Homo sapiens: one gene and its partners. The protein of the gene in region 4 binds, or shares a complex with, the protein of the main gene of each other region. Each region holds a gene or a part of one and is shown on either strand. Other genes may lie near its edges.

The links.
Region 1: PPP2R1A (region 4) and STRIP1 share a complex: the UniProt entries of both Homo sapiens proteins name them as parts of the core of STRIPAK complex.
Region 2: PPP2R1A (region 4) and PDCD10 share a complex: the UniProt entries of both Homo sapiens proteins name them as parts of the core of STRIPAK complex.
Region 3: PPP2R1A (region 4) and STRIP2 share a complex: the UniProt entries of both Homo sapiens proteins name them as parts of the core of STRIPAK complex.

What each region holds. Positions count from the first base shown.
Region 1 is NC_000001.11:110,044,602-110,051,626, reverse strand, and holds part of STRIP1 (striatin-interacting protein 1), read right to left. Parts: exon of another isoform or gene 6,940-7,025; intron 6,788-6,939; coding exon 6,722-6,787; intron 6,613-6,721; coding exon 6,549-6,612; intron 4,948-6,548; coding exon 4,876-4,947; intron 4,086-4,875; coding exon 4,011-4,085; intron 3,856-4,010; coding exon 3,758-3,855; intron 2,516-3,757; coding exon 2,389-2,515; intron 2,168-2,388; coding exon 2,067-2,167; intron 1,285-2,066; coding exon 1,218-1,284; intron 672-1,217; coding exon 567-671; intron 1-566. UniProt on the Homo sapiens protein: Plays a role in the regulation of cell morphology and cytoskeletal organization. Required in the cortical actin filament dynamics and cell shape. Part of the striatin-interacting phosphatase and kinase (STRIPAK) complexes.
Region 2 is NC_000003.12:167,724,872-167,731,896, forward strand, and holds part of PDCD10 (programmed cell death protein 10), read right to left. Parts: intron 603-7,025; exon of another isoform or gene 530-602; intron 1-529. UniProt on the Homo sapiens protein: Promotes cell proliferation. Modulates apoptotic pathways. Increases mitogen-activated protein kinase activity and STK26 activity. Important for cell migration, and for normal structure and assembly of the Golgi complex.
Region 3 is NC_000007.14:129,458,424-129,465,448, reverse strand, and holds part of STRIP2 (striatin-interacting protein 2), read right to left. Parts: coding exon 6,999-7,025; intron 6,738-6,998; coding exon 6,672-6,737; intron 5,933-6,671; coding exon 5,869-5,932; intron 5,149-5,868; coding exon 5,077-5,148; coding exon of another isoform or gene 4,952-5,076; intron 2,862-4,951; exon of another isoform or gene 2,800-2,861; coding exon of another isoform or gene 2,719-2,799; intron 2,484-2,718; coding exon 2,409-2,483; intron 1,406-2,408; coding exon 1,308-1,405; intron 838-1,307; coding exon 711-837; intron 1-710. UniProt on the Homo sapiens protein: Plays a role in the regulation of cell morphology and cytoskeletal organization. Required in the control of cell shape. Calmodulin-binding scaffolding protein which is the center of the striatin-interacting phosphatase and kinase (STRIPAK) complexes.
Region 4 is NC_000019.10:52,207,028-52,214,052, forward strand, and holds part of PPP2R1A (serine/threonine-protein phosphatase 2A 65 kDa regulatory subunit A alpha isoform), read left to right. Parts: intron 1-4,232; coding exon 4,233-4,465; intron 4,466-5,658; coding exon 5,659-5,806; intron 5,807-5,927; coding exon 5,928-6,083; intron 6,084-7,025. UniProt on the Homo sapiens protein: The PR65 subunit of protein phosphatase 2A serves as a scaffolding molecule to coordinate the assembly of the catalytic subunit and a variable regulatory B subunit.

The DNA of each region.
Region 1 (7,025 bases), on a different chromosome or scaffold from region 4:
CCCAGGTCACACTGCTGCTTAACCCTTTGGAAGTTACTGTCAGGGTGACAAACCATCCCAGTTTCCCTTGGACTGAAGAGTTTCCTGATACATAGGACTTTAAATGCTAAAACCAGTAGAGTTCCAGACAAACCAGGATGGTTGGTCACCCTAACTATGTGTCACTTTGGAATCTGAAGAAAGCTATGGATTCCTTCCAGAAACATTCCGGTGTACATGTACACACAGTTATCAGAGGATTCAAGGACCTCCCCACCCCAAAGGCATCCACAGACCCAGAGTTAAGGAAGATTCTCAGAACCCTGATTATGTTACCAATCAAGATTAAGACGACATGGAAAAAGTTCTTCTATAAATGTAGATTTGTTTCAGTGCATGACTGGGCCTCTTCCAGCTTCCAGTTCAATTCATCAAGGAACTGGGAATTGGCCCTTAAAATGCAAGGATACGGCTACAGCAAAGTTAAGTGAGAAGGCACAGTGAGCCCCACCCTGGGGACTCCCTGCTCCCAGCACTCTTCTTTGAGCTCCAAGTTCCAAGCCTGCTGACTACACTGACTCACTTACCATTGTCCTTGAATGCTTCCACTTTGTCAGCTTGTTCAAGATCCGAAGCAGATTGATACAAGAAAAGAGGTTCCTCCAGCAAAATTGGTTACTGTCACCTGCTTCCTGCAGGGTAAACCCAGGAACAATCAGCCCTCATGGCTGCAGTGTGTGCAGCAGTTTCCAAAAGTCCCTCACACATGATCTCAGGACAGCCGGGTCTCCAGGCCTCTACCAGGAATCCCCTGCTCTCAGAGCAGCCCCAGGACTCCATCCCAGAAGCTGGCAGGGGACTAGGGGAAGAGGGAGGCTCCCTAGACTTTTCCTGCAGGAAATATGAACCATGATACTGGGAGCTGTGGCCTTGGGCTGCCCCAGAGCTCCTACTGCCGAGTCCAGTGTTGAGGGAGAGAAGCCCTCTACTAGGTGAGCTCTGGATCAGCAGCCCCTGAAGACCACACTCCCTGACTAATCCCTAAATCCAAATCTCTCTGCTCTGCAAGAGCCCTCCTCCTGGCCCTTCTGTACACTTACAGTGCTTTAAAAGCCGGGCACTCCACAGTGATTTCACCTGCGGGAGACACCTCTATTCCTGCAGTGTTGGGGTAGGCAGGCTCTCTACCCACTGACCCTGGTGCCAAAAGGACAGCTGAGGAGAGCCCAGCCACTCACCAAACTCTCCGCCGTCAGCTCTGGCAGCTCATGCACCACGCAGTGAGGGTAATCCAGGACAGAAATGCTGCAGAGGGGAGAGGAACCAGATGCCCACCATGAGCAAAGGCCCAGGGCCTGGTGGAGCAGCCGTGCCTGAGCCAGCTCCCAGCTTTCCTCCCTCACTTGTTGGAGCAGAAGTAGGAATCTACCTGATGTGTCCCACCCCAGTTTCCCCACCTATAAGATGAGGAAATATCTGTTACAAGAGAACTTGTAAAGCACCCCTGTAGCCAGAGGCCAGCTTGTTGATCTTGTAAGGGGAAGAGACCCTCACAGCTTCCCCCACAGCAATCAATGTGGGGCGGGGGAGGAGATAGCTCAGGGCAACTAATTTATGCCAAACCTTTCTGGAGACAGGGTCTGGCCGGCGCCCTGTGGTATATCACACTGACGAGCAAGTAATGTCAAGCACAGCTGGCACCAGGCCAACAGCAGGGGCTAAGAGTCAGCAGATAGGGCATTACAAGGCACATGGCCGAGCCCCTTAGAGACAGCAAGCAGCCCATGGACTCCTCAAAAAAAAAAAAAAAAAGTACAGAAGGGACAGGGAGGAAAGTACTAGATCCTGGGATGAAAACCCTCCTGCCCAGGCACAGACCAAGTCACCTGGGGCAGGACTAGCTAGACTCAGATTTGACACAGTGGGCTCTCCACAGGCAGAGGCCATGTCTCATTTATCTTTATGTCTTGATGCCTAGCACAGTGCTGGCTCGTAGGTGCTGGAAAAATGGACACAGTGGGAAATACCAGCTGGGAACTCTGCCGTCTGACCATATCCACCCCTTCATGGTCCCTGGCCCTCATCACCTGTTCTTGGCAGTGATGTAGGACATGATGTTTTGATTGAAGAACTTTAGGATCAAAGGAATGCAGTTGGCAAACACCAGGTGCTGGGCCATGTATTCAAACTGAAGCCAACAGGAAAAAAAAAAAAAAAAAAAGGCGCGGCCCTTGGGACCTTGCCCTCTTTCCTCCAGGGATGAAAGGCCTTGGCTGAAGGGCCATGTCTTAGAACATTCATGCAGAGTTCAAGTGGGTCAAAGGCCAAGGCCCCCGTTCTTGTGGGCTGGAGGAGCAGCAGTGCCCGAGGCCCCAGCCCACAGGACAGGAGGGAAAGCCCTGTGGGTACCTGGTAGACATGGTTCAACTTAAAGTGCTTGAGCAGCAGCAGCAGGACAGCAGAAATGGCCTTAACAATGACCTCTTTGTGGCGGTTTACATCCACCCCCAGCTTCATGCTCTGCAACACTGTGGTGCTGGAAACATAATTGCCTGGGTAAGCCACCAGCATGCGCAGTACCTCATTTCTAGGTGCCCACAGAAAAGATGGACTCCGGAGCCTCCCTGGGCAAAGACTCCTACCTCCCCACTCACCCCAAGGACATCTCAGAAGTCAGCCGAGGGCTCCCCCATCCACCTCCCAAGCAATGTAGCCTCGCACAATTTATTTCTTCCCCATGATGCCCTCAAATACATTCTCAGTCTGTTTCTCTGCCTTTCCTCCAAAAATGAACTTCTTCTCCTTTCCAAGATCTCCCCTAAGCTTCTGCTGCCATATTAACCTGAGTTCTCCAAATGTGTTCTGTGGAATACCAGGATATTGGCAAGTTTCATGTCATGGAAAAAAAGGGTTTTGGAGTAAGATAAATTTAGGAAGCACTGAGTTACATTGGTTTCTTAATTCAGGACTTCTCATTGTACATCTTTGTAAGAGGAATTCCTCCTTATAAGAGAAATCCATGAATCAAATATACAGTATTTGACTCTAGAACCTTTTTTCCAAGGACCATCACATGATGGCCTAGTGTTCTGTGATCCTCCCTCTGGTGTTAGCCAACCCCTGCCTCCTCCCTCAGCCGGCCATCACTGCCATACTCCGGGGCCACAGCCACCCAGGAGCTGGGCTCAGGGCTGGTGGCCCAGGCAGGCAGAAGATCAGGTCAAGGTCCAGGTCCTTCTCAAAGTAGAACATGATCTCAATCTGGACTCTCACATGAAAGACAAGTACAGGGCACAGGGCAGAAGAGCTCTGAAGAATCTCACTCTATCGCCCTGAGACATTTGCCAGCATTCTGCGTGCCCAATCACTGGCGAAAAGGGATGTCTCTATACCTGGCACAGGTTCAGCTGTTGCTGGCAAGCTGTCTACAAACTAACCCTCCTCATCCTGGGTGTCTCAATCACAGCTGGAGAGTGGGGCTTTGGGGAAATGTCCAGGGTGGCCCCATTCATTTTACAGAGGAGGAAATGACTTTCCCCAATTCACTCAGGAGTTTGCTCAGTGGTAGAGTCTACACTAGAATCCAGGCCAACAGGACCAAGCCATCTCCCCAACCAGTGAAACTCTTTAATCTCGTAGTTTCCTTTTTTTGGGTCAAAAATACCTACATTTAACCTGTAGAGCTGGGCCAACAACAACCAACCTGACAAGAGGAAAATGTTTGCCCTTCTCCATCTATCTTCTGCCCCACCTGCTTCATTCACAGAATGATACTCACGGCATCTCCTCAGGCAAGACGTCCGCTAGGATGTTGATTGAGTCTGTTTTGGCTTTTGAGGTGGGTGCTGCAGCCAACAGGATCTTCAGGAGGGCAATCTGGGAAGAGTAGACCATTCAGACACAGGTCTGAGAGCCCAGGGTCAAAATTAAGCTCTGAGCAGTCCTCCTGTTGGTCTGCAGGTGGCAGGAGGACGGCAGGGCCTGCTCTAAGGCCAGTGTAGTGGGAGTGTCCCACTGCAGGCACCACTCACCATATACTGAGGCAGGCTGGGGAGCAAGCCTTGGTAGAGGGTTTCTGCAGGGACTTGCTCAACTTCTTCTTCTCCCTTTTAACATAATGAGTACAAGCATAAAACCCCAGCCCAGAATACAATCTCCTGAGCCAGCTTCCTAGCTGGCTGGAGGAAAACCTGTAAACAGTGATGTACATAATGATGTTAATGATGATAACAGCAAACCCTGAACACAAACAATGTGCCAAGCATTTTACTTGTAATAACTCAGTTCATCCTTATTATTATAACCCTATAAAGGTATTATTATTCCTATTTCACAGACAAGGAAATAAAGCATAGAGAGACCCAGTAACTTGCCTAAGTTGCCATCCATAAAGTGGTGGACCCAGGCATCAGAGGCAGGTTCCTGACTCAGTCTGTATTCTTAACCCTGCACTAGACGTGTCTCAGCCTGTGCACTGGGAGGTGGACTGGGAGCTCTTTGAGGGCAGGGCCTGGGGCAACCTTGTGGTCTAATCCCAGCACAATGCCTGGGAAGAGCTGGGGATCCCGGGGGCTGAAGAGGACCTCTAACTTTTTTTTTTGAGATGGTCTCGCTCTGTCGCCCAGGCTGGAGTGCAGTGGCGCTATCTCGGCTCACTACAAGCTCCGCCTCCCGGGTTCACGTCATTCTTCTGCCTCAGCCTCCTGAATAGCTGGGACTACAGGCGCCCGCCACCACGGCTGGCTAATTTTTTTTTTTTTAGTAGAGACGGGGTTTCACCATGTTAGCCAGGATGGTCTCAATCTCCTGACCTCATGATCTGCCCTCCTCGGCCTCCCAAAGTGCTGGGATTACAGGCGTGAGCCACCGCGCCCGGACTGAGGACCTCCAACTTACCCCTGAGAGAGGGGAGCGGAGGTATTCCTCCTCCATCTGTGCCTGGACCTCTGCAATCGACGTGTACTTGTGCTGGTGGGAGAGATGGGAAAAGAAGGGCTGGGGAAAACATTCTCTGGCCAAACTCCCTGCACTCTAGCAAAATCCCCACACATTTGTCTTCAAACACAGTCTTCTGAAAGAGGATTAAGTCACCACAAAAATCCCTAGCTAAAATCCCAAACCCCAGATATTTTTTATTTTTATTTTTTTGAGATGAAGTCTTCCTCTGTTGCCCAGACTGGAGTGCAGTGGCATGATCTTGGCTCACTGCCACCTCCGCCTCCCAGGTTCAAGCAATTTTCCTGCTCCAGCCTCCCAAGTAGCTGGGACTACAGGTGTGCACCACCACACCTGGCTAATTTTTGTATTTTTAGTAGAGATGGGATTTTGCCATGTTGGTGAGGCTGGTCTTGAACTCCTGACCTTAGGTGATCCACCCACCTTGGCCTCTCAAAGTGCTGGGATTATAGGCGTGAGCCACCATGCCTGGCCCCAAAATATTTTTCTAAAAGGGCCCCTTCCTCTTGCAACTACAGTAAGAAGCCCATGGTAGATAAGAAAAAAGTAAATTAAAGGAGGGAAATGGCCTTTCAGATAGCTACAGCAACAGGAGAAAAACTGAAAGCAAAATCAAGTACTCAAAAAGCCTAGCTGCAGAGAGACCACTTAGTACTACAAATTCCAAAAATATATTTCAAAAACATAAAAACAGTTTCACTCCAGATAGCTGTTAGGGGAGATGCCTCTTCCCCACTCTTAATGTTCTCTCCCGTGTGGAGGGACAGGGGTTTGCGAAACACCCCTCATCTCTCTCTGCCCCGTCCACACACTCACTCCTCCCTTCTCTGATCGGAGAGTATGGGAGGGGACACAGGGCGGACTTGTCCTCACCCTTCTCTTTTCTCTTTAGAACCTGTCTGCCTGCTGAGAGTCTGCTCTCTTCTCCTCCCCGCCACCAAGCTTGGCAGAGCCTCCCCACACTGCCTGGGACTGGTAGGTAACTCTGCCTAATTCTGGAACAACGTATTAGGACACTACTGCTGTGTTCTTAAGCCTCATTCTCCATGGCTCTATGAGCTATAAAGTTGGCATTACAATCTCCATCTGCCTACTCCTCTATTTCAACCGCCTGAGAACGTGGGCAAGGAAAAGGAGGGCTATTTATTGAGCTCTTTAGAATTTCAACAACTGTCAAGTAATATAATCCTTTTTTTTTTTTTTTTTTTTTTTAAAGAATCCGGGTCTCACTCTGTGGCCCAGGCTAGAGTGCAGGACCATGATCATAGCTCACTGTAGCCTTGATCTCCTGTGCTCAAACAATCCTCCTGCATCAACCTCTTGAGTAGCTGGGACTACAGGTGCATGCCTTGGTGCCCGGTGGTCAGGTAATATAATCTTTAAAGACTTCCCAGTCAGTCCCAAACAAAAGCTCAGCTAAAACAAGTAAAACTTATAATAAAACAAGCAAAACTTACGAAAGACTGTTTGCAAGGTTATTGCAAAGTCCACCCCGGCCTCTACCCCAGGTTCTTGCAGGCAGACAACAGTCTTAAAAGGCTTCTCCCTACAGGCTGGTTTCACTCTACTCACTTAGGACCAAACAAGCCAAAAGCTCACCCAAAGCCACTCACCTGTTTCAGAGTCTTGATGCTTTCGTGGATTGGCCTGGGCAGCCCCACCACTGTGTTCGTGTCACTGGAGAATAAAGAAGGCCCTGTGTTGAGCCTCGACATCAAATCACCTGGGATCCCAAACACCAAAGGCCGGGAGAGCTAACAGCAAAATGAACTCGGCTTTTACTCACCTGCCTAGAGTGTAACCTATAAATTTGCTGCGGCTGGACTCAAGGAACATCTCAATGTCTTTCTCTCTGCCACATCACCAAAAAAGAGAGAAAGAAAAAAGGTTTTTAGCAAATGCTATTTCAAAGTGTTACAGTTAACAAAAACACAGCATCCAGAAACTGTGAAGCCAGGAGAAGTCTCCTATAATTGTTTTTCTCTTTGAAAAAAGGGAAAAAACTGAAATTTTCAGAGAATTTTAATGTTTCTTATAATTTTGCTGGATCAGTAACCTGGAAATACATGTTAACTAGTTTATTCATAAAA
Region 2 (7,025 bases), on a different chromosome or scaffold from region 4:
TAATTAAGGAGGTCCTCCCCAAGAGTTGGTTAACCCAGGATTTCAATTAACTGACAATTCCTTGCTTTCTCTCAATAATATAACACAGAGAATCATACTCATCAGCTGGGCACGGTGGCTCATGCCTGTAATCCCAGCACTTTGGGAGGCCAAGGCAGGTGGATCACTTGAGGTCAGGAGTTCAAGACCAGCCTGGCTAATATGGTGAAACCCCATCTCTACTAAAAATACATAAACTAGCCAGATGCGGTGGTGGGCTTCTGTAGTCCCAGCTACTCAGGAGGCTGAGGCAAGGGAATTGCTTGGACCTGGAAGGCGGAAGTTGCAGTGAGTCGAGATCGTGCCACTGCACTCCAGCCTGGGCAACAGAGCGAGACTCTGTCTCAAAAAAGAAAAAAAAAAAAAAAAAAAAAAAAATCACTCATCAAACTCTTAGAGAAAATGGATTTTTACAAAGACTGTATAGATGGTAGTCTGGCCATTTAACAAAGCGGGGTGGGGTTAACATTTGCTGACACAGTTTACGTACCTTTTTAGGGCTTTCTCATGCCAAAATGCTGTTAGTCACTTCCAAACAAGAGACCAAGATTTAGAGGAGAAAGCTAGGAAAAAGGGAGGCAGAGGAATAGGGTAAGTCAGTGATCCTACTTAGAGTAAAATGAGCTTGATGTCTTAAGGATATACCTACATCTCTCTCCTTGACTTGCAAATTACATCTTCTATAATTCAATGTCTTCCATTTCCAGTTTTCTTAATAAAGTTAAGTGGAACCTAACCTCCCTGAACATACACTACTGTCAGTTTAGTACTTACAGAATTTTACACTTAGGGACATCTAGAAGCAATCTCTTGTTAATGGTAAGTGTATATAGCACTTTACCATTGTATCGTTTATATATATATATATATATATATATATATATATATATATATATATATATGCTTTAAAAATATTAAATGGACAATTTGTGCAGAAAGATACAGGGAAAAAGCATAAGCATTTAAAGTCTCAAAGCATGGGCTCAAATTCTGGTCCTGTCATTCATAAACTATCTTTGTCTCTGAACAAGTCATTTCACCTCTCTATCCTTTGGTTTCTTCTTTAATATGTCTGACAACTCTAGGGTACTTAGCAGCACAAGCTTGTGGATCTTCAACTTGGTGCTGCTGAGACTTCCAGCTCATCTTAAAAGTTAACTGCACCATGTCAAGTGTATGCACTTACATATTTTGTAGAGTACTGTTTTTTTTTTTTTTTTTTTTTTTTGAGACAGAGTTTCACTCTGTCACCCAGGCTGGGGTGCAGTGGCGTACCTCCACCCAGGTTCAAGCGATTCCCCTTCCTCAGCCTCTCGAGTACTGGGATTATAGGCACCTGCCACCACGCCTGGCTATTTTGTATTTTTAGTAGAGATGGGGGTTTCACCATGTTGGTCAGTTTGGTTTCAAACTCCTGACCTCAGGTGATCCACCCGCCTCAGCCTCCCAAAGTGCTGGGATTACAGGCGTGAGCCACTGTGCCTGGCCAGAGTACTGTTTCTTAATACAGAAATTTATAAAATGGGTAAGAAGTAACTTTTTCTACACATAGATAGACAGTATACAGCAGGAGATAGTGCTCAGTTTGGAAGGAAAAAAACCTCAGTTTGAATTTTTGCTCAGCTGGATGCTATCATTTCAGTTTTGTAAATCTCTATTTCTAAACTAGTGAGAAACAGAAATACTGAAGTACTCACTTCCCCAGATTAAGAGTACTAACTGCATATAAAATAGTTACTACAGTGGCTAACACATAATAACCATTCTATTCATATTGTTATTAATATTTTAGCCAAAATTCTAGGAACCTGACATGGAATCGATTGCAACTAGGGTGAGGCAAACCAGATGCCTAGAACACAAAATTTTGCTCTGATTTGCATGACTGAGAGAGTTAGTGCTTCTTCAAAGTTTGTACCCTAGGCATATCTCTTGCCTCACCCTAGTCCTGCCCCTGCATAACATACACAATGAGAGTCAAACACTGATATCACAATGTCATAAAGGCCACCTACATAGCATATTTTCAAAACCTTTTATCTCCCATTTGCCAAAATGGATGCATAAATACACTTAGTTTTGGCTTACATAAAAGAATTTGGCCATCAGGTGCATTTTAAAACTTTTTGCCAAACCAATGTTAAAATTACTTTTCTAAATGTACATAGATAAACTTAACAAAGGAAACCATGGCCCAGAAGCAGGCTGGGTAGCAGGCTGGGTTGCACACTGAAATCAAGATGTGATCAAAGCCCTTGAGATAATTCATAAAAGGTTTATAATCTGTACAAGATAATCAAAAGTTGACAACAAAATTAAAGAGCTCATTACCTCAGAATTAGCTGATGGGAAATGGAAACAGTAACAAAATAGTAACAATTGGCTCCTACGATATTTCAAAGCAACTTGTTCAGGGGGAAAAACATACATCTCTTTAGTTGTGACAATCCTCATTTTTTTTTCCTATGTCTAAATTTTTGGTAAATTCTGATCTGAGTAAAATTTAAATGAAAACACTTGTTGGAAGACAGGAAACAAATCTGTCCCCTTGAATATGTTCATCTTTTGCCCATAAAGTTCTCAACCTAATGGTTCATGAATAATGCCTAGTTGAATAGTTGTTTGGTGTTTAATTGAGGTACATGTCTATTTTCCTTTTTATTAGTATTATTCCTTGTCTTAGTTTCTCCAATACGATGTTAATTAAAGCTTTCCTTTAAAATCCCTTAGAAATTCAACTAAACTTAATTCCTCAGAGTGTTAGGTCCTCTCTGCTTAAAGGTACAATTAAAAGAATCTGTACCACCCTGGATCAGAGCTACTTGCTTTGTATCACTTATAATCTTAGATACCTAGAATTTAACTTAATGACTCCTAATGGCTTAAGATCCTCTAAAACATGCAACAGGTACTTTCATTACTTTACACAATTTCTTTGCACCAAAAACACTGCCACAGGGCACTCAAATGTTGACAGAAACTATTAGCCCCAGACAATAAATAGCCTCTGCCTTATTTAACATTAGGTGCTAATGAGGCCAAGGTTCTATCTTGATGATGACATTTAACTTTACCTTTAGCTCCCAATTGATCTCAAATACAAATACTATTTCTTACAAGAAGAAATTAGGGCTAGGATAGTATCTGTTTTTACTGCATCTACTGTTCCTCCTGTAACCTTCACTTCGCAAAAGTGTGATTTATTTTTTAAGGGAGCATACCAAAAATAAGGTAGAACCTTGGAAATCTCTCAAATTTTGACAGTACTGCATAAATACCGATTTTAATATGGATAAAGACATAGAGAAAGATGTGCAGTTCTCAATAAAAAAAAAAAAAGGATTCCAAATGCTTTGGAATTAAATGAAAAAAAGCCTAGCAACAATCTAAACTCGTATAGGGTGCAGTTGCTGTCTAGAGGCCAGGTCTGACTCATTTAACATTCCCAACTGGCTTCTGTTGTAGTAACCTTATATAAGTCTGAGGAGGCAGCCGGTGTGTAACATCTTAGGGTTTTGTCATTCCATAACTTCAATCTCAGTTGAATTCCAGTCTATCTTGAAGTAAGAGAGAATGACTGAATAAGACAGGGAGACCCATTTCAGTGCCAGGGACCAGATGGCAGTTAGAGAAACAATCATTTATTTTTCTATCAGCTCTAACCTAAAATTGTAAAATGAACTGATGCACATGGAAGTACTTAGTATATTAGAAAGACTAAATGTCCATACAATGGTCTTTCAACCCTTTCCCCTTGTATCTACTGAAGTATAAACTCCCTAAAGAGAAGTTGTATCCATTTCTCTATTTCCTAGTATCCAACACAGTATTCTGCATAGTCAGTCTAAGTCAGCAACAGTGTTAGTTGGAGATATGGTGATGAAAAGTCAAACAGCACATACCCTTGAAGGTATGTAGTCTTGGCAGGGAAGAGAGACAGTAAAGAAATACAGTGACATGTCACACTGCCACTTGGCATTAACACTCCAGGGAGCGTACCTGCTTCACATGATACTCCTACCCTATGCAAGTTCAACAGACATGGTGAACATTTGTTTGAAGAAAACAAACAAAAAAATAACTTCACTAAAAATAACTACTGCAGTATGTGATAATTCCATTCCCTATGCAAAAGTCCCAGAATGAGACAGATAAGAAACGTGGATCTGCCACTCCCCACACCAGACTGAGAGCCACAGTGAGCTCTCACAAAGAGTAGCTTGCCACACTGATTGTGACTCTTGTATTATAATATACATATTTCTTTTTTCAATATGGTCTCTGCATAACAAGTCAAACACTTCACCTGGTACTCAAAAGAAATCTACTCCAATGCTAGAAAAAAACTGGCTGTGTTGAAGTTGTTAGTCTACAACGTGTATTTCCTAATAGGTTTTTTAAAAAGTTTGAATATTAAGTAATTTCTGCCTGCCACACTGACCTTAGCATTTAAGACATAACTGCTCTGTAACTACAACTCTTAATGCTAATTTCTCTCTCCAATGCAGTTCAATCACTAACATCATTTTTACTATAATGATGAAAAACATGGTCTCTTGAGTCAGCCAGCCTGGATTCAAATCCTAATTCCAAGCAATTTTTCCTGCAACCGTAGGCAAGTTCCTTAACCTCTCTGTACTTTAGTTTCCTCATTTAAAAACTGGAGATAATAGTGCCTCTACCTCGAAGGGTTGTCGTAAGGATTATAAGAGATCCTGTAAAATGCTTATTAGCATGAGACTTGGCACTTAGTTACTTAATACTCAATAAATGCTAGCTATTATATTAGGTTCCAGTTCATTCCAAAGAAGGTTTAAGGCAATTTCACAAGTAATATGCATTCAATAAGTAAATGAATCAAAAAGTCATTATTTAGACTAACCTCTGGTAAACTTATTCCCAAGGGACCAGCCTAAGTATATGTTAGTGACTACCACTTAACATGTTCCACTGCTGTTACCCAATAGTTCATAAGCTTGTTAATAAAATTCTTTTCTTTTTCTTTTAACCCTATAGGCAACCTGGATTCTATCAACTGTATAAGAATGAAACTGAACAGCAGAAAATCACTTTTGGGTGATTTTAAAAATGGTTATACATAACCAAAAATGTAAGGGTGAGCTTGAAAAATAAGTGTAATATAATACACTTAAGACACATTTAAATTTTGTAGCTTAAATGACAAAATTGAAATTACCATCTTCATACAGACAAAAATGAACCATCAAACCACAGTGTTTATCTTTCAGCACATAAATTATTTCTAATTGCTATAATAAATGTGCTTTCATTTTTTGCATTGTGTGTGTGTGTGTGTCCCTAAAGCATAACCCTCTAACACTGCAGCTTACTATAATATTTCAAATGCAATAACATAGATAACAATGACATTTAACTTCTAAATCACTTTTACAGTTTATATTATGGAAAAAATTACTTATCATGTAAGTGGCTTAAAATTCTTAGTAACACCTATCATAATGATATTAATTATCCAACAACATATAAAAAGCAGTATTTCAGTTTTATCCTCCACATACTGGTTATGCTAGGTAAATATGAAAATTTTATCCAAGATTCAAGTAACATCAACACTGACTTTTTAAAAAGTAAGTTTAGGATTTAGCAAAGACTTGTTTTTAATAATAAAATGGATAGTATTACCAAATTTTAAAGCCAAATTATCAGCAATCTCTTTTTGACAAGATCTTGTGGAAGAGTAAACTGGTAAATCCATGAAGGCATACAAGGCTACAGAAACTCAGGGCTGTTGACCTTACTCTATGCCATACCGTGGTACTACAAATGACTGCAGAACTTGTTTCCAAGACCAAAACCTAACACAATTTATCCCTAAAATTCAGTTTGTATGTTTTAAAAATAATCTTTTTATGCTTAAGTCTCCAGCTATAAAGCAAATAAGATTAGAAAAGTATTAGAAAAATTTTCAGGAAACCCAAAATATAAGTTCCTTTGAAACAAAAACTACTCAATTTTACAAAGCCACCTTGTCTAAATCAAGTGATATTAAAGGTATAATTCATAGGAAGATAGCAAGGTTAAAAAGCAAGAAACAAAACAAAAAAGCAAAGAAAAAGAAAAAATTATGGATTCTAGAATACGGAGATAGATCCAGATTCTAACCATGGTTCCAGTACCAACGTTCTGGAAACTCTAGCAATTTAATTAAACTTTTTTTAGTTTAATAAGTAAATTTACTTATTTTCTTGATGTCTTCAGCTATAAAACAGTATTAATACTACTACCTAGAGGAAATAAAGGTTTTTAGGGCAAAACGAGACAACATTAGGGAAGAAGAGTCCATTAGAAGTTTCTTCCATGTCTATATTTTGTTATAATGAATATCGCTTGCAAAAAGCAGGACAGTGATAAGTCTCTAAAATGCTGTGTTACACAGCAATTCTGCGGCAAATGAAAGTGATTCCTTTATCATTTCCACTTAGAAAATTAATCCTGATTTCAGAGACCTCCAAAAAGAACAAACATTTTTCCACAATTTATATTAAAATTCTGTCAATGACTCCTTTACATATAACCTAAATTGCCTAAGCATTATGGCTCATTTGAAAGTTCTTATATACTTCAATCCAGAAAGCATATCCGCTTTATTCATTTCTCTATTTCTGTCCCCAGAGAAGTGCTGGAAGCACTGTGCATGAATACACTCCTTCATTCATTCAGCAAATATTTACTGAACCCTTACAATGTGCCAGGTACTGCGTAAGTAGTGGGGTAAAACATGACAAATGAGAGGGCCCTGCTCAGGGAGCTTATAGTCCAGTGAGGAGACAGTATTTGTCAAATAAATACAGAAATAATTAAGTTTCTATTATGATGATGCCACAAAGGAGTACAGAGTATGGTGAATACATGGCGGAAACCTATTCTGATTTTGGGAAGGCGGGCAAGGCTCCCCTGACGAACGATATTTAAATTGAGACGTGAAAACTGACTACCAGGTGGCC
Region 3 (7,025 bases), on a different chromosome or scaffold from region 4:
CTCCAGCAACATTTAATTACGGTTTTTAAAGGTACTTTGCTCTCTCTCTTCCCCCTCTGGACTTTTGCATATTAGCTTTTCTGCTTGAAATGCCTCCTGTCCTCCTTCCCTAACAATTCCCATATCCTGGCTAACATCTGTTTTTTTAGGACTCAGGTTAGGAGTCATTTCTTCTCCACCTCAAGCTGGATTAGATGTTTCCATAGCAACCAGTGCTTATCAGTATCAGTGCACTTATCTCTCTATAATTGGCTACTTATATATCTGTATCCTTTATAAGGTTTCAAGGCCCTGAAGAGCCAGAACTGTGCCCTATTCTCAGAATTATATCTCAAATGTTGGAAAAGTGCTTCACATATAGAAAACTACGGTCAACATACTCCCCCCACCCCCCCATTTTTGTGAAATGCTTACATTCTCTCTTGCATTGTTTAAAAACTGGCTGGGCATATTCCTGAGAAGCTAGAGATTCCTACCCACAACTCTGGGATAACTTACAAGGGACACAGACATCTGCACCTTTCTAGGACAGTTCCCACTCCATAACCCTACCTCAAGCTCATGCAATGGGTGGCTGGATTCCCTGAGAGAGGACAAAGAAAAGGCTGAAAGATGCTCATCAGGATTAAAAGGGACTTTGCATCCTTCCTTTGAGAGATAGGGCCTGGCAAACACCCAAGACCTGTGGAGAAGTGCTCCTAGCTGCTCACCTGGTAGATATGGTTGAGTTTGAAGTGTTTGAGGAGTAGCAGAAGCAGGGTAGAGATACTCTTTACAATAATCTCCTTGTGCCTGTTCACATCGATGCCCAGCTTCATGCTCTGGAGAACAGTGATGCTACAATGGGGAGAGAAGGTATTAGTGCAGAGAGTGGCCTTAAAGGGAGCCCTGTAGGGATCCAGGTATTTGGGTCTGATACAATATACACAAGAGAGCCAGAACTTGGGAAACTTGAACTTCTGTGCCAGGGAAACCTCCAGAGTTCCCACTTATGAGCCTATCTGAAGAAATGCTCCACTGATCTCTTTGTTTCCGTCTCTCTTTTGGCAAGCTCATCCCTTGGCAATGTTCACCCAAATACCTGGGCAGCCAGTCGCTGGCACTGGTGTCACCCTCCAGATCCAGAGTTCTGAGCTAAAAAGAGCCAAGCAGAAAGCCCTGTACGGGAAAGGGGGTACTGGTGGGCAGAGACGGGGAGATCTCTTTGGAGACAATCTCTGTAAGTGTTAACAAGGTGAGTGGGGACTAGAGAGAGCCTGCAGATAAGACAGCTAGTATCCAGCAGCTGCCCCCGTTGAAGCACTCACGGCATCTCCTCAGGTAGGACATCTGCCAGGATATTGATAGAGTCTGTCTTAGCCTTAGAGGTGGGAGCTGCAGCCAGCAGAATCTTAAGCAGAGCGATCTGAGAAGTAGAAAATAAAGAAATTTACCACTGTCAAACCCACTCAGCAAGGAAGTGATTCTTCCACACCCTAACCGCCCTATAAAAAGTGTTTTAAAGCCATTCTGTAAGTTCTTCCCTCAATGACCATATCTCCCCAGCATCCAGAAAAGCAAACAGGTGCCCAGTCCTGACAGGCCTGCCTGTGAGGCTAGGGAGAAAGCCAGAGGGAGTGCATTGGCTGTTATGCTTCAAGACTGTTCTTTCCAGGGCCTGGCATGGTGGCTGATGTCTGTAATCCCAGCACTTTTGGAGGCCGAGACAGGCAGATCACTTGAGGTTGGAAGTTCAAGATCAGCCTGGCCAACATGGTAAAACTCCATCTCTACTAAAAATACAAAAACTAGCTGGCGTGGTGGCATGTGCCTGTAATCCCAGCTATTCGGGAGGCTGAGGCAGGAGAATCACTTGAACCTGGGAGGTGGAGGTTGCAGTGGGCCAAGATCGTGCCACTGCACTCCAGCCTGGGCGACAGAGTGAGACTCCACTTCAAAAAAAAAAAAAAGACTGTTCTTTTCAAAGGGGAAGATGGAAGGAACAGAGTGGGAGGGACAGTGTGTAGAAATAAGGTGGGCGGCATAAACCCAACTTCTCCCACTCTTTTCTTTCCTCTAACCTGAACCATTGGCATCTTCCCCACTCCCAGCCTGAGGCTATCTAGGACATGACAGACCACAGCAGATCTCAGAGGGACTACAGTACTTATCTCGGAGGAGGGTCCCCAGTGTATCCTGTAGAGACCCCAACTTATTCCCCACCCTTCCCAAAGAAGGACTAGGGAGAACAGCACCATCAGAGGAGCACTGAGGAAAGCTCAGAATTTGCATGTGTCAGAGAATGCCTTGCCAAAGGGGCAAAGGCTCAGGAAACAAGCTCAAGTGTTGGACAGGTCCACTTGAAATGGTTTTTAGCTGTCTGTTCCTTGCAGCAGAGAAGGGCAGCTCTGGCCTAGCCATCTCCTTACCATATACTGCGGAAGGCTGTACAGCATTCCCTGGTAGAGGATTTCACATGGCGTCTCTGGTACCACCTCTTCCCCCTATGGCAAGAAATACATGGTTTGGCAATGCCACTTTCCAGGTGACCAAAGGCTTTTTTTTCTTGGTTGTGAGGGGTGACCTGAAAAGAGCACTAAGCTGGGAGTCAGATCTAGGTTTCTACCCTAGCTGTGTTAATGACTCACTGTGTGACCTTGGTTAAGTCACATTCCTTTTCTGAGTCCTAGTTTTCTCTTTAATAGGACCATCAGGTTGGCCTGGATGACCTTTCAGTACCTGGGATACTGGAACAGATGCTACAGAAGCACTTCCTATGGTGTGGATCTGAGGCTGAAAACTCTAGAACGTTCTGTAAGCCTGGAAGGAGAGGTAGGTGGCTCAATAGTGTGGGTTTAAAAGGAAGTTGGGTAACCTATGGACTGGAGAAACAGGAAGGAATATTAGCAAAGAAGCTTTTAAGTGGATGGAAATGATTTTCTTCCCCTCTCCATTAGCCCCTACATCACTTTCTCCTTTCTGACCAGCTCCCTCATATACAACTATCTCTGTCCTGTTGATGACATTAACTAAGCCTTTTATCAGAGTGGGGAGGCTGGGGTCTCAGGGACCCAATAAGCTGCTCAGGCCACTGTCATCTTTGACCAATGCAGTTCCCTTCCTCCTACAAGGTCCCTCTATTACAGGGCAAGGGGCCACTGCCATGAGACCCTGAGGCAGGGAAGAATAACCCGCCTCCCTCTGTCCCACACAACTAATCTGCTGCTTAAATGGACGTAAGTCCTAAATGGACATTCAACAGAGCCTGGCAATCCTGGCATGTTTGCCTTCCTGCTCTCCAAAAGGCTGATTTCATACCATCTTCTCTCTCCTCAAACCAACTCCTTTGCCCACCATCCCTAAACAGTTGCTGACCCTGCCTCACGCTTCATGGAGAAAACAGAAGCAATCAGACAGGCACACACTCATCTTCTCAACACCAAATCTACCAAGAGTCTTCTTCCTTCCTTCTTGACATGAAGGATGAACCGCCTGTGCTTCTAACAAAGGCCAGTCTCCTACTTGTGCTCAGGATCCCACACCCATTTGCTTTGTTGAATGCCTCAGTCCTGCAATTATCCCCTCTCTTGGATCACTTATTTTAGGAAACAAAAAATGCTCTAGTATCTCTCAGCTATAAAACATCCTCCCCTTGACCTCACATTTTCCTTCAGCTACCATCCACTTTCTCTCCTCTTCACAAAACTTTTATATCATCTACCTCCTTTTTTGACATTCCCTTCAATACACTCCAATTAGGCTTTCAGTCCCACTACTTCACTTAGAGTTGTTCTTATCAAGGTCACTATCTTCATGTTGCCAAATCCAATGGGCACCTTGGTTCTTACCATAATGCCACTTATTAGTAGCATTTTACCCAGCAGATCACTCCTTTTTTCTTGAAAGACTTTCTTAGCTTTTATGATGATATCATAATCTCCTGGATTTCCAGCCACTTCACTGTCTTTCATATTCTTCTGGCTCCTTTCCTGACACATCCCCCCCTCAACATACTGGTGTGCCCCAGGGCTTTGTCCTGCCTTCCATTCTCTTCTTTGTCTCTACTCCCTCCCTGGGTTATCTCAGCCAGTTCTACGGCCTTTAACACTGCCTATAAGTGTTACAAACAACTCCCGAATTTATTTCTCAAAGTCAGCCCTCTCTGTAGAATTCTAGACTTTATTTCCAATTGCCTGCAGCTCCACATGGGTATCTAATGGGCATCTAAAACTTAGTATGACCAAAACAGAACTCTTGATATTCCCCCCACATCCTGGCAAATGGTACTTATTCTTGATTCCTTTCTTTGCCTCTCTATCCACATCCAAATGCACTGCAAGTCTTGTCAGCTACATCTCCAAATCCAGGTCGGCATCATCTCTCACCTTGACTATTTCAAGGGTTTTCTAACTAATCTCCGTAGAGTGCGTCTATGCTTTTCTGGTCCAATCTTTACACAGAAGCTAATGTTTTTAGAAACATAAATCAGATCATATCACTCCCCTGCTTCAAATCTCCAAAGGCTGCCTTCCCTTTGACTGCGAGTCAACTTCAAGCTCTCTACCTTTGCTTACAGGTCCTCGGCAAAGTGGCCTCAGGCCACCTCTCTGACTCCATCTCTAGGATCCCAGCCCTCGGCCCTGTGCTCTAGCCACAACAGCCTTCCTTCACTACCTCTGACACTCTTAAGCCTGCTTTCCCCTTGCTAAGGCTGTTCTCTCTGTTTGGAATGCTCTTTCCTCTGATGCTCCTATGGCTGGATCCCTGTCCCTCAGATCTTGGCTTAAATGTCACCTTCTCAGAGGTCTACCTACTCCAACTGCCCAATCTTAAGTAGTCTACTGATGCTTCTTTCATGTCATCCTGTTTAAATTTTCTTCATTGTATTTACCATTCTCTGATAGTTTGGTTTACTTAACTTTTTATTTTTTATCTTTCTTCCCCAACTTCAATATATCATGAAAGTAGGGACCTTGTCTTGCCTGGAACACAGTTACAGCCTAATATGCTGAATGAATGCATGCACACATGCTCTGTGACAACACTGAAGACAGGTTTTCTTCTACTCTCCTCCTGTGTAGGGCTTCCTTGGCTCACCAAAGACATAGGGCACTTCTCCAGCTCCTCTTCATTCTTGATCTGCACATCTGCGATGGAGATATACTTGTGCTGACAAAGATAAGAAGACATCAACAAGGGCTGAGGGCCTCATTCACATGTGTACCAGTCTCTTACTTAAATTCCCCAAAAGCAAGGAAATGTTCTGCTTATGGGTTTGTTACCCCACATAGACATGAACTCTTTCAAGGAAGGAGTCTTAATCACCTCTGCATCATCAGCACCAGTCAAAGTGCTTTGTGCACAGTGTTTTTTTAAAATTCTGTTTCTACATTTGCTGAAGAGCAGCAAATACCTAAGCATTTATCTTCAAATAAAGTGCAAGGGGAAGTCAGAAACAGGCCCCTGCCCCTGGACCACTGCCCTGAGAATTTTGATGCGTGTGCACGTATGCATGGAGTGATGACTCCATGCATACAATGGATATAGAGCAGGCTCCTACTCAATCCTGGGCCTTTGGAAGTTAGTAGACTTATGGACAGAGAGAAGTGAAAGAAAAAGAAGCAAGGAATGGGAAGAGAGAGAGAAGAATGGGAAGAGGAAAAAGAAATGAGAGGAAGAAAGGAGAATTTTAAAATCTACCTGAATATAGGAAACTGAGTAAGTAAAGAGAGACCTAATTTTTCCTATTTGGCCAAAGGACTGCAGGAGGAATGCAGAAGGTCCAGAAAGAGTCTGGTATAAAAGCCCCACCCAGTATCCAGGAGCCTGGTAATCTGACCTGCTTTGATGGCTCCCTATCCCTGAAGACTGAGAGCCCACCCCAGTCACCTGCTTTAGGGTCTTCACACTCTCATGGATGGGCCTGGGTAATCCAACCAATGTATCTGTGTCCCTGTAAAAGGCCAGACATACCAGATCATAAGCTTCCAAAGTACGAGAACTACTGATACCCCAATACCCCCCTAGAGTCAACAGACCATGCTACTTTCAACAACATCTACCCCCAGTACCCTAGACCTTCCTCTGCAAGCTCGTAGGTCCCACATCAGTGCTTCAGGACACAAAAATAATAATGGTACACAGAAATGTTTCTGGAAATCAGGAGATTTTTATAGTCTTTTGGGTACTCACTTGGTGTAGGAGTGGTAGGTTCCTACTTAAAAGGGTATATAGCCCAATGACACCTTGACTATGAAACTCCACTAATAAGGACTCAATTTTCAAGAGGCCAGTGGGAAGGATTCATGAGGCTGGGGAATGGGGGAAGACTGGATCCGTTCTGACCATGTCTCTTGTTCACAGAATTTTAGCCCATTAGAGCAGGAAGGGCCCACAGAAACCATCTAACCCAACAACCTCAGGAAAAAATTAAGCCCGAAAGAGAAATGACTTGTTGCTCAAAGTCCTACAGTTGGCTAAAAACACAAAAGTTCTTTGAGGAAAAGTGGAAGAAACTCAAGGAAAAAAGAAATCCATAGAAAGAACCCAAAGTAGTCACTGGGAGTTGTCCATGGCCTAGGGGCTCTAGGTTACATTATGACCACCAGGCACCATCCCTCATTCCAAGCTACCTGCTCCTCTGGCCCCCTAGGAACCACTCTGTAGCCAGTTCCAGCCATTCAGTCACTTACTGCCCCAGGGTGAATCCGATGAACTTGTTCCTGCTCATCTCCAAGAAGTGCTCAATGTCCTTCTGTCTGAGAGGATGGTGGAAAGACCAATCCCAGAGAAGGGAAGAAAAGCAAACTTTGAGAGAGAAAAACTTTCCGGGCTCCTATCCCTCCAATCAGAGGACTGGAGCAGTGGAAAAAGGCAGCAATCAACAGAAGGAATTTCAAACCCAGGAGTTCTGACTGCCAGACCAACTTAACGAGCCTTGAATACATAGACTACCCCATCTTGGGCCTTTGGAGACTGAAACCCCGAAGCATAGGGGTCCCTGATGCTATCAAACCTACCTGACCTTTGGGGCCCAGGGCAGGCCC
Region 4 (7,025 bases):
CAATTTGTTTCTTCCCAAATAGCATTATGTAAAGAAACTTGATAGTTACCATTAAATTCGGATATCTCAGCCTTCATCTGGGCATATGTGTATAATTTGTGCGTATGGACACACAGAAAATTGTATACAAATAGATCGTTTCATACATTTTACACAAAACAGGGCTTAACATGAGCATGATGAGGTTTGGGGGCCAGCCTAGAAGGGGTTCCTTGAATTTCACAAAATTATCTGTAGCCCCTGCCTGGTATTTGTCAGGTGGAACTTCTGAGCAGTGAATTCATAGCTTTCAGTAGCTTCTCAGAGGACTTAGGAGCAGAAGACATTATTTTTATGAAACCGCAAGGCTTCAACAAGGGCCCCCAGGGTCTGCAACTGAGGTTGGGACTCAGGCTTGCTGTGGAGCTGGGCTGGGACCCAGGGATCCTTCTCCTACCTGGCCAGGGTCTCCCAACAGAACATTCTCAGTGAGGAAAGTCCCAGTCAAGCCACGCTTCCTTTTGGGAAGCAGTTCCCTGTGACCGATGTGCCTGACGTTCATGTCAGCCAGCAGACACATCCTGGGGCTGTCTGGGCCAGGCAGTGCTGGAAACCAGAGAAGAGTTAGATCAGAATAGCTTGTGCTTGCTCGTTGCCTGCAGTGCACATCCCAAGAGCCTTACACAGTTGTATACTGATGTTAGCTGTATTGCCCAGATGAGGAAACTGAGGCACAGGCAGATTTAAGTGAATTGTCCGAGCTGGGAAGAGGCAGAGTCCAGATTCGATCCCAGGCCCCTAATTCTTAGCCACTCCTATGTGCTATCCTCAGAGGGCTCCTGGTTGCTTTCAGAGCTGTAAACAAGGGAGGCAGGGGGGTCCTTAAACCCAGGGAAGGCGCCTAACCTGCTTAGGTGGGATGGGAAGTTGTCAGGGAAGGCTTCCTGGAGGAGGTGGCTGTTAACCTGGATTTTGACAGGTTATAAGAAATAGAAAATGGCTTTGTGTAGTTTCTTCATTCCACAAACATTGAGCAAGGTCTCTAGGCTATGGAAACCCAGAGATGTGTCAGACCCACTCCCGGCCCTTGCTCTCAGCAGTGGTGAAATGGAATTAATTACAGAGACTCCTGTAGCTGCAGTGTAAGGATTGTTTTTTTGTTTGTTTTGTTTTTTTCCCGAGATGGAGTTTCACTCTTGCTGCACAGGCTGGAGTGCAGTGGCGGGATCTCGGCTCACTGCAACCTCTGCCTCCCAGGTTCAGGTGATTCTCCTGCCTCAGCCTCACGAGTAGCTGAGATTACAGGCGTGTGCCACCGCACCCAGCTAATTTTTGCATTTTTAGTAGAGACGGGGTTTCACTTTGTTGGTCAGATTAGTCTCGGAATCCTGACCTCAGGTGATCCACCCACCCCGGCCTCCCAAAGTGCTAGGATTACAGGTGTGAGCCACCGTGCCTGGGTGTGAGGGTTGTTTCTGTGTCAGCAGCTCTTTTTATTTTTATTTTTCTTTGAGACAGAGTCTCGCTCTGTCACCCAGGCTGGAGTGCAGTGTTGTAATCTCAGCTCACTGCAGCCTCTGCCTCCCGGGTTCAAGTGATTCTCAAGCCTCAGCCTCCCAAGTAGCTGGGATTACAGGCACCCATCACCATGCCTGGCTAATTTTTGTATTTTTTGTAGAGACAGGGTTTCACCATGTTGGCCAGGCTGGTCTAGAACTCCTGGCCTCAAATGATCACCTGCCTTGGCCTCCCAAAGTTCTGGGATTACAGGCGTGAGCCACCGCATCCGGCCAGCAGTTCCTAACTCTTTTGGAATTATGGATCCCTTTGAGAATCTGTTAAATTCTGGACCCTCTTCTTATAAAAGTACACAGGATTTTAGGCGGTTCACACTCTTCCCTACCCTGTGTGGTCTCCAGGTTTGAGAACCCTTGCCCCCAGACTTCACAGAGAGGCTTCACAGTAGTGAGTCTTCACTGTGCAAAGGCATCAATTGCAGTTTCTTAAATGTGTACCTTCCTGGGCCCTGCCTCCAGATATTCTGATTGTTTTGGTCCATGCTGGGATAGGCCTCCGGGTGATTCTGCTGCAGGGTGGTCAGGGATCATCCTTTGAGAACTACTTCCTGCAGTAACCTACAGGAGAAGAGAACCTTGGCTTACATAATTACTGCTCAGCCTCTGTCCCAGGCCTCCTTATAACAGATTGCCGTAAGTTCCACCGGTAGTCACTTGGCAAGTGTTGATTGAGTACCTTCTCTGTGCCAGCCCAGGTGGTGGGAGAACTGAGGTGAACAAGAGGAACTCTGTCCCTGCAGTATCCCAGTCACACCGCACCTATGGTCACACTCCCATGATACTGTCCTGAACTTGAGACGTCACGATAGCATGAGGACCTGTGACAGTGACATTATGCTGGCTTGCTTAGTATTACATTTTTCCTTTGAATCATTCATTGCAACTATTTTTAAATGCTATTTTTAAACATTTGTTTTTATTCTTAGTTTTACTGTAAAAATATACATAGAATGTGCTATTTTAATTATTTTAAAGTGTGTAGCTCTGTGGCGGTAGGTTTATTCACATTGTGCAGCCATTATCACCCTCCATCTCCAGAATTTTTCACCTCCTCAAACTGAAATTCCAAACCCATTGGACATGAGCTCCCCCTTCCCTCTCCCCCAGCCCCTGGCAGCCACCGTAGGAGTTTGACTGTTCTAGATTCCTCATATAAGTGGAATCAGAAAATATTTGTCTTTATGACTATTAGCTAATTTCCCTTGGCATAACATCTTCAAGGTTCATCCATGTTGTAGCATGTGTTACATGAGACTTCTCACATACAAGATTCTTGAGTTTTTTTGAGGGCTGCATTTGGAAAACCAGATTTGCTTATTGCCAGCTGCATTCTCCCATAGTGACAGTCCTTGGAGCTGGGGAGCACCTGCCCTCCCTGGGCTACATGCCCTCCAGGGTGCCACAGTGCCTGCCTCTTCCTATTCATGCCTCCTGCCACCCCTGCCTGTCACCTTGGCTGATGGCATCATTCTGTTACTTGACTGAGCCCTGGAGGCATTTCCATTTATGATTTTTTTTTTCCTGCTTTAAATACCTGTCAGCCCAAGTTGAATTTCAGATCAGAGACCTCCACACCTTTATTTGAACATATTGGGATAAGTTGAGTCTCCCTTCAGTAGGTCACTAATTAAGAGTTCCTGTCTTGTGCTAAGAGTGCTGCTGGGCTCTGGGGATACAGTGGAGAGCCAGTCGTATGTATCTGAAGGAGCACAGTCATTCTAGGCCCACAGTAACAACCAGCGAGCAGTCCCGAGCCCCATAGTCCCCCAGAAACATGAGATCCCAATTCAGTCACCAGAGCTGTGTGTAACTGTTCATGGGAAGCTTAGGTCAGGTTTTCGATCCTGACCTGTAGCTATTACTAGCTTGGGCAAGCCAGGCTGTACCTCAGTTTTCTCTTCTTTTTTTTTTTTTTTTTTTTCTTTTTGAGACGGAGTCTCGCTGTGTTGCCCAGGCTGGAGTGCAGTGGTGCGATCTCGGCTTACTGCAGCCTCTGCCTCCCGGGTTCAAGGATTCTTCTGCCTCAGCCTCCCGAGTAGCTGGGATTACAGGTGCGCACCACCACACCCAGCTAATTTTTTTGTATTTTTAGTAGAAACGGGGTTTCACCATATTGGCCAGGCTGGTCTTGAACTCCTGACCTCGTGATCCACCCGCTTCAGCCTCCCATAGTGCTGGGATTACAGGCGTGAGCCACTGCGCCCGGCCCGTTTTCTCTTCTTTAAAATCAGGACTTGCTTTATAGAATTCAGTGAGGAAGAACAAGCACCCCTGGTACAACACGGAGGTCCTGCCTAGTACACACAGTGAGTAGATGTTCTACACAGTGTCAGTGATGATCATTGCACTTTGAGAGGCTAAGAACTTTCTCCTCAGAAAGCAACGTGTGTAATTTTAAGGTTTATGGACCCCAGTGAAACTCCTTCAAGGACCCCTAAATAAGAACCTTTGTGGAAGGCACGCTGACAGAGACCTTCTGCTGGCTGGCATAATATTACGTTTTTCCTTTGAGTCATTCATTGCAACCATTTTTAAAGGCTATTTTAATGAAGGTCGGGATGGGTAATAGGGAAGTTTTCTCTGAGGAGATGAGCCCATGATGGGGTGCAGGATGGGGCTCCAGGGCTGCGGATGGTGGAGAGGGAGCTGTCCAGTGACTTTGTGTTCTCACCACAGCCACCGCTGGAGTCGCTGGCCACAGTGGAGGAGACAGTGGTGCGGGACAAGGCAGTGGAGTCCTTACGGGCCATCTCACACGAGCACTCGCCCTCTGACCTGGAGGCGCACTTTGTGCCGCTAGTGAAGCGGCTGGCGGGCGGCGACTGGTTCACCTCCCGCACCTCGGCCTGCGGCCTCTTCTCCGTCTGCTACCCCCGAGTGTCCAGTGCTGTGAAGGCGGAACTTCGACAGTGAGTCTCTGCCTCCTTGGAAGCTCCAAGCTCCCATCTCAGCTCCAACCTTCTCTAAAGCCTCAGACTCCTTTTGGTCTAGCTGGGGCCCAAATGCCCCTGAACTCTCTCCACTCCCACTCCTGCTTACCACCTGATAGGCCACATCCTCGAGAGTTGGTCTCTGGACACGGCCACGTGTCAGTTTACCCACCTCTGCCCCCTTGCTCACTTAGGAATTGAGATGATGACAGGTCCTCCTTCCCACTGGTTAATGTGAGGATTTAAAAGAATTATCACACATAAAGTGCTTAGAGCAAAATCTGGAACATAAAAACTTTCAGCAACTTACATCTGATGGTATCTCCAGCCTGTCCCAGGTCCAGTGCCTTTGGCAGATAAACCACCTCAGTTTTCAGCCTCCTGCTCGTCTACTTTGCAAACGATTGACCGTCAAGCCCGGGTTTGAGCCTGACTCACTCCAGAACTCTGGTTTATGGCTGTACACTTGCTTAGATACTTACACTGGCCCCCACCGCCTTTGATCGAAGCAATTGCTGCTGAAAAATAAAGCCTTTCTGTGGCTCTAGACCTGCCTCTTAGTTAAGCAGTTTTTTGTTTGTTTGTTTTTTGAGATAGGATCTCGCTCTGTCATCCAGGCTGAAGTGCACTGGTGCAGTCATAGCCCACTGCAGCCTCAACCTCCTGGGCTCAAGCATTCCTCCTGCCTTAGCCTCTCAAATAGCTGGGACCACAGGTGTGCAACACCACGCTGGGCTCATTTTTTATTTTTGGCAGAGATGGGGTCTCACTATGTTGCTCAGGCTGGTCTTGAACTCCTGGGCTCAAGCAATCCTCCTGCCTTGGTCTTCCAAAGTGTTCAGATTACAGGTATGAGCCACTGTGCCTGGCTCGTTGGTTAAGCAATTTTTATGGGAATGATGTAATCGTCAGCACTTAGCATTGACTAGATTTATTATGCGCAATCTGCGAAGTGTCTCACACACACTATTTTCATTTAAACCTCATGCGGACCTGTGGGGTAGGTACTGTTACTATCAGCTCCGTTTCATAGGGCTGGGAAGACAGAGAGGGGGTCATCACTTGCCCAAGGTCATTCAGCTAAAACCTGGACCCACACAACTGCAGAGTCTGTGCTTGCTCCTCTCTGCCATACTGCCTGCTGCCTCAGGATCCCCGTCCCCGACTCCCAGGTACTTCCGGAACCTGTGCTCAGATGACACCCCCATGGTGCGGCGGGCCGCAGCCTCCAAGCTGGGGGAGTTTGCCAAGGTGCTGGAGCTGGACAACGTCAAGAGTGAGATCATCCCCATGTTCTCCAACCTGGCCTCTGACGAGCAGGTGAGTTTTGCTTCCTGGCCCTCTGCTCTCCCGTCCTTCTGGTGGTTCCTGCCCATGAAAGAGAATCCCAGAGCTCAGCAAGGCCTCTGCTGCCCTCCCACTGTTCCTCTCCTCTCCCTAGGACTCGGTGCGGCTGCTGGCGGTGGAGGCGTGCGTGAACATCGCCCAGCTTCTGCCCCAGGAGGATCTGGAGGCCCTGGTGATGCCCACTCTGCGCCAGGCCGCTGAAGACAAGTCCTGGCGCGTCCGCTACATGGTGGCTGACAAGTTCACAGAGGTAGATGAGCGACCGTTGACATTGTCCCACTGGTGGGGACACTGACACTCTCAGAAGGGAAGCATATAGGAGCTGAGGTTTCCATTAGGCCGATGGAACCATTGGGCGTTTGAGCAATAAGATCTCTATGATCATCTAACTGCGTCTCGCTTCGTGTGCCAATCCTGGTTGATTGACATGGCATCTTAAAGTGCTGCCTTGAGAAAGATTCTGAGGCAAAGTTAAGGCTACGTGGAGGAAAGTGCCACAGGAGCAGAGAAGGGTAGCACATGTGGGGTGTTCCTGACATAATCAAGCTGTCCTTTCACAAAGGGGAAGACAGCCCAAAAAGGTGGGGTTTTTTGGTGTTTTTTTTTTTTTTTTTTTTTTTTTTTTTTAAGATGGAGTCTGTCGCCCAGGCTAGAGTCTTGTTACCCAGCTGGAGTGTGGTGGCGCAATCTTGGCTCACTGCAGCCTGTCCCTCCCGGGTGCAGGCATTTCTCCTGCCTCAGCCTCCTGAGGGACTGGGATTACAGATGCCCACCACGACACCCGGCTAGTTTTTGTATTTTTATTAGAGACGGGGTTTCACCATGTTGTTAGCCAGGCTAGTCTCGAACTCCTGACCTCAAGCGATCCGCCTGCCTTCATCTCCCAAAGTGCTGGGATTACAGGTGTTAGCCACCGCGCCCAGCCCCGGAAAGTTTAATTAACTGATCAGAGTGACACTACCAGCCAGGCAGAAAGGGGACAAGACTCCAGGTCTGTGACTCTCAGGACAGTGCTCCTTCCACAGGGATCCAGATTGCCTCATCCCACAAACATGTTTGCTGAGCACCAGCTATTTGCTGGGCCAGTGAATTCGGATCATTCCTGGCCTTCATGGAGCTAGGCAGTCTGAAGGGGAAGACTGACTTAGGGGAAATTTGATTATAAAGTGTCACAGGTGTGGGACAGACAGAC